Regions from separate parts of the Homo sapiens genome. Here region 2 is linked to region 1. The links come from fine-mapping of genetic effects on gene expression. Tissue or cell type: esophagus mucosa. Region 1 holds a variant in brackets; the other region holds the start of a gene. All regions are shown on one strand. Distances are from middle to middle.

The links.
Region 2: it holds the start of IL18BP, and the variant in region 1 is fine-mapped to the expression of IL18BP in esophagus mucosa (GTEx, PIP 0.97).

The regions. Positions count from the first base shown.
Region 1 is chr11:72,021,599-72,024,505 of GRCh38, reverse strand. It overlaps NUMA1 (nuclear mitotic apparatus protein 1), which reads left to right. Exons shown (of 27, transcript NM_006185.4): 5 at 153-232; 6 at 1,359-1,441; 7 at 2,087-2,167. Among named protein-coding and RNA genes, the nearest start is that of NUMA1-AS1, 8.8 kb to the right of the region's middle. The variant G/A (reference allele first, on the strand shown) is at 1,724.
Region 2 is chr11:71,997,435-72,000,341 of GRCh38, reverse strand. It overlaps IL18BP (interleukin 18 binding protein), which reads right to left and starts at 1,433. Exons shown (of 6, transcript NM_001039660.2): 1 at 1,323-1,433; 2 at 330-415. The coding sequence starts at 357. RNF121 (ring finger protein 121) reads right to left here. Exons shown (of 9, transcript NM_018320.5): 9 at 2,745-2,907.

The sequences.
Region 1 (2,907 bases):
GTATCTGTCACCTGCCTCCAGGATCTGATCTGGATCTCTTCCAGATCCAGCAGAGATCAAGACTGGAAGGAATGGGGAGGTACTATGAAATGCAGCAGCAAGGAGGCAAAGATTGCTGAATACTCTGGTCCTAATACTTGCTCTTTTTCTAGCCATGGCACTGAAGAGGGACAGCAAATCTTGAAGCAGCCGGTGTCAGAGAGACTGGACTTTGTGTGCAGTTTTCTGCAGAGTAAGCACCTTTCTTATCCAGCTATGAAGAAGCTGCTTCCTCAGCTCGTGGGATTGGAGAGTCCAGAGGAACTAGTTCATGGGTGTCTGGAGGAGAAAAATTTCAAGGCTCCCCACTCTTTAACACAAAGATGAAAACAGCTGGTTCAGATCCCCTGGGTCTTGTGATGCCTTCATCAGTTGGTGTAAGAAGAGTGTCCCTTCAGTCCCAGAGCCCTTCTCGGAGATCTAGGTGGAGCCAGAAGGTTACTTTTTGGGACCTGTCACTTTTAACTCTTTGAGCACCTTAAGTTTCTGTTTCCCCGAACTTCAAGGAGACAGAAGAGAGAATGAGTCTCTTTCCCTTGCAAGAAAAACTGTTTTTCCCAGATAACTTTGAATTAATTGCTTAGGCGATAGGTGTAGGGGCAGAGGCACATTAAGGTTGATCTTGACCCCCCTCACTGCTTGTGTGACCTTTCTGGACATAGGTTCCCTATCTATAATATGGAGATAACTGCTCTTCAAGTGGATGGGTGGATTAAATAAGAACACATGCAAAGCTTCTAGTACAGTGCTTTTCAGTTCCCCTCCCCTTGTCCAGCCTTAGACCACAGAGTCCTCGTCTTTGACATGGGGAGCTAGCTGCCATCTCCACCCCTAGAGAATTATAGGAAAGGTGAGGCTTTATTTAGATAAAGTAAGGTGTTAGTAATTTGAGCCCAGACCCTCGGGCAGTATAAGAGTCACGTATCCCTAGTTGTCCTTTTCTGACTCAGCTATAGGTTTACTCTGTGACCTCAGTTGGAACAGGATTCTAAAGTGACCTGGCATCTCTGGGCTCTTCCTCTGTGGTGCTGAGAGTTGGTGAGTGGGTGGGAGAGTGCAACATCATGACCCAGAGTTGCTGTGAATTCCGAGGCTGCTTTCTTCTTCCATTATCCCTGTAGCCCTTGGATTGACCCAGGATAGAACTGACTTCAGATGGAAAATTGTAAGGCAGGGGAAAGAGGCCATAGGAGTAAGGAGGCCTACATCTCATAGCCCCACCAGAGATAGCCATTCTGCTCCCCAGATTTCAGTGTTCTGGGATCTCAGGTATGGTTTCCAGGAAGTTCACCCTGTTTTCTACGTTGTTGTCATTGCAGAAAATCGAAAACATCCCTCTTCCCCAGAATGCCTGGTATCTGCACAGAAGGTGCTAGAGGGATCAGAGCTGGAACTGGCGAAGGTACCTATGGAATACCAGACTGGGGAGGCAGGGCAGGGTTGGGGTGATGGTACCTGAGGGACCCTGCAGGGCCTTCTCTTAACCCAAGGGGAGATGATGGGTGCTTTATTTCTGGGGCTCTAGTACGTTGGAGGTAGAACCAGGCAGCCACCTGTCTTGAGACAGAGGCTAATTTAGCCCAAGGATTCTAGGAGCCCATGATCTTATGACAGAGATTATGAAACAAACAATGGTTTACTAGACCATTACTGTGGGCCTCGGTGGAGACCTGGCAGAAATCAG[G/A]TCTCATTCGGCTATCACCATATTTTTATTATAGCTCAGTCTTAAGTCATTCCCTCTGCTCTTTCTGGGTGCTGGCCTATAGAGGGTACCTAAAGCTTCACACCCAGGGTTCCATGAGTCCAGGAATTGAGCCATGCAGGAATCTTGGCGCTCAGCTTTTTGTACAGTGTACACTATCCTTAATTAAAAAAAAAAAAAAAAAGTGTTTCCTGGAGCTGTTAAGGATGGTGGCCTGGGATTGCTGAATTCCAGGACTTTTAGAAGAGTCACCGGAATAGCTCAGAGTCCCCAGAACAGCCCAGAATGGGGGCACTGAGAAGAGAGACAGCCCCACTCAGTGACTGCCTCCTGTTTGGCTTCTAGATGACCATGCTGCTCTTATACCACTCTACCATGAGCTCCAAAAGTCCCAGGGACTGGGAACAGTTTGAATATAAAATTCAGGTAAGCCCTTGTGCCTCCATGCCACCTAGCAGGCCTAGCCCATGCTTCACCTCACCTGACTTGTTTTTCTTTGAACAGCAGATACTGGACTTTTTAAAAATACAGTTATAGCAATTATTGCCATTCATCATAGAAAGTCTGGGAAACGTTGAAAAGCATGCAGGAGGAAATAACAGTTGCCGATAAACTCATTCCCAGAGTTTGCTAACTTTTTAAAGGATGTACTTTCAAGTCCTTTTTTATGTGCATATGTTTAACTGTAATGTGTTTTAGGATAATACGTAGAAATTATTCTCTGTTCCTATATGTGTTTCTGTGTGTGTGTGTTTTTTTTCCCCCACAGAACTTTCACTTCATTTATCTCATCCTTTCCTCTGGTAGGGTCATCTGGAAGAGGCCAACATAGTTATATATAAAAGCTTCCTGGCCGGGCGTGGTGGCTCACGCCTATAGTCCCAGCACTTTGGGAGGCCGAGACAGGAGGATTGCTTGAGGCCAGGAGTTCAAGATCAGCCTGGGTAACATAGCGAGACCCTGTCTCAACAAAAAATATTTTTTTTAAAAAAAATGAGCTGGGTGTGGCAGTGTGTGTCTGTAGTTCTAGCTACTTGGGGAGCTGAGGAGGAGGAGTTGACTCCAGGAGTTGGAGGTTATAGTGAGCTATGATTGTGCCACTGTACTCCAGCCTGGGTGACAGAGCAAGATCTTGTTTCTTAACAACAATAACAATAAAAGCAACT
Region 2 (2,907 bases), 24 kb after region 1:
GGACAGTTACAGGTCAGCGGCTCTGGAGACAGAGTGGGCTGCCCGGGTAAGGATGTAACTCCAGCCCAGAGATGTCTGGGTTCTAGCCAGGGAATCAGAGCGGGAAGAGGGACCCCTCAGCACCCACCCCTTAGCCCTTTATTGAACAGAGTACAGAGAAGCTTTAGACTGGAGCCAGAGCTACAATATCTGCCCAGGTTCTTAAAGCAACAGCACCAGGTGCGCTGGGTGGTTTGCCTTGGAGTGAAGGCTCCGGGTTAGCCCATTGCTCCATTCTGTTCATAGACCTCACCCTACCCCGCCTGCCCATGCGTAGCCCCAAGGCCTACCTGGTGTCCAGTTGTGTCTCATGGTCATGATGCATGCGTCAGGAGCTGGTGAGCCTGGCTCTTTATCTGTGACAACGTCCTCTTCTCTGGTGAAAGGTGGGGGAGGAGAATGGTAAACCACTCCCGCTTTTTCTCAGTAGCTGGCTTTTCCTCAGTAGCTGGCTTCTCCTCCCGTAGCATAGCCTGGAGCTCTTTCAGCACTTAGAAACAGAGCTGGGGGGGTCAAGTGACAATCCTTCCCCACCCCAGCTCTCATGACCACAAATGGTTGTAAGATGCTTACCTAGTCCAATCTTACCCCTTCATTAGGGAAGGCAAAATTGAGACCCAAAGAGAGAATATGGACTCACCCAGTCACACAGGGAGGCAGTGCTCTCTTCAGCACCAGAGCTGCTTCTGGGAAGGGCAGGATGCCGAGCAATCCTTCTGGGAAAGCACTGCCCCGACCCTCTATTTCACTTTCACTTTTTAACCAGGGAATCTTGAGCAGCTGTGACACCTCTGCTTTAGCCAAAGTTCAGTGGCCAGAAACCTTCAGCTCCTGGGACTCCTACTCTCCAGAGGATACCAGACTGGGATCTCTAATCTACCCCCATGCCACCCCCAGGGTCACCTAGGGTATGAACTAGATGAGTCTCTCACAGATCAATTCTGTCCCGCCCAAGTGTCAGGACTTTGGTGTCCGCCTCCCCTCTTCACAGCCAGGTCTTTGTTTCCATATGAACAGGCATCTGCTTCCTCCTTCACCTTCACACTGACATTCAAGGGGACAACTTTCCTAGGCACTGGGGAACCCCAAGTTGGACCACTTCAGGCTCAATGCCATACCAGTCCGTCCACATCCTGGCCTTTCCCAGGCTACCCACTCCCCCAGCCACCAGCCCCAAGGTCGGCTACATCTCCCAGCACCCACCATCACACCCTCTGTCTCTCATCCTAGCCCCTCTGGCCAGAGCCACAGGTCTAGGTTCACTAGTAGTCCCAGACTCCTACCTGGCTCCTAAGAGGTCCTGAAGAGCCTTCCTTTCCAGAAGCTTCCCTCTAGGAGCTCCAAGACTCAAGTTAGCTGTGTCTAGCTGCGTGTGAACCCACCACAGGAAATACACCGAGAGCACTTCCTCCTTGTCTGTAGAACTCTCACGGCCAACCCAGGAACTGGCACACAAGCTCGAGAGCCAACCCTAACAGGAGGGAAGGGCAGGCACTTCCCGGGGAAGAGGCGGACTGGCTCAACACTGGCTCTGGCAACAGAGTCTACATCAGAATATGAATCTTGTCACTGATGGGACAAATGGCGCTGGGGCTGCGGGAGGGCCAGGATTCAGGGTGAGGCGTGTGAGGAACCTAGGATGCTAAATCTAAGGAGGTTTTCTCTCAGGGTCATGCAGTTATCCATGGAGGCAGAAAGACCAGGGCTGGGTGATCCAATGCATGCATATATTAAGTGTGGACAGGAGCTGCATGTCTGAGGTTTGTGACTCCTGTGATTGGGAGGGTGCAACGGCTGGTGACAGAGCCAGGGAGGCCCACAGATGGAACTGGGTTTGGTGGATGCATCAGGAACACAGTCAGCTGTGATCTCAAACTTCTTGTAGAAAAACCAGATTCATATTCCTAATTTAGACATAGGATACTACAAGTCACATCCTTCTTCTCTAGGTGTCTAGTTCATGTTTTTCCTCCTCTCAATTCCTCCCCCTACCTCCTGCCCCAGGGGCTTCTAGCATGTAAGATGCAGGAGAAATTCCTCCCAAGAACACCAGCATCTCCAGGAGTTAGGTCAGGAGGCAAGGCTGCCTGGGGTTTCTGAGAGAGACAGTCCAGTGGGGGATGGTAGGGAAAGATGACAGGACTCTGTCTTAGTGGAACCGAGACCAGAGTCAGGCCAAGGGGGGAGGTCAAGGGACTCAGAACTGTTACACATGAAAAGAGCTTTGGACAGCCTGGCCTCGGCTTCTCACCTGAGCCTGACAGGGGGGTGGGGGGAAAAAGTAAAAGGAAGGGTGATCCCTAGGTCCTCTGACCAGCCCCATTCCCCTCTCTGAGGAGGGGAACAGCCCCACAGGTGGCATAAGCAGCAGGGTACCATGGGAAGCCACAGCTGGGGAAGAGAAGCCGAGCCTGAGTGTGGTCCTCAGGAAGGCAGGTGGTGGCGGGACACTGTCCTCAGGCAGTGAGAACATAGAGCAACCTCAGTCTGAAGGCAGGCCCAATGATGCCCCAGGCCCCCAGGCCACAGGACAGGAGCCTGGCATTCCACCACTCCTAGGGATGTCAGCAGGGGAACAGCTGGGAACAGCAGAAAGGCAGGCCCAACCACCCCCAGACCCTCAGGTCTCCGATGGGGGTTAACAAAGGCAAGACACCCCTGGGGACCCCAGGGAAAGAGGTGGGAAGAAGAAAGCAAGATAAATGTTCAGCTTTCCAACCCAGCTCATGGAGCTTTATTCAGACGGGAGTGACAACATCCTGCTTCGTTCTTGCTGCCCTTGAAGGGGCAGGCCCTACTGAGCCATATTCCCTAGAAACCCAATGCCGAAGGCCCATGTTTGACCTCCCACTTTATTCAAGTCGCCTA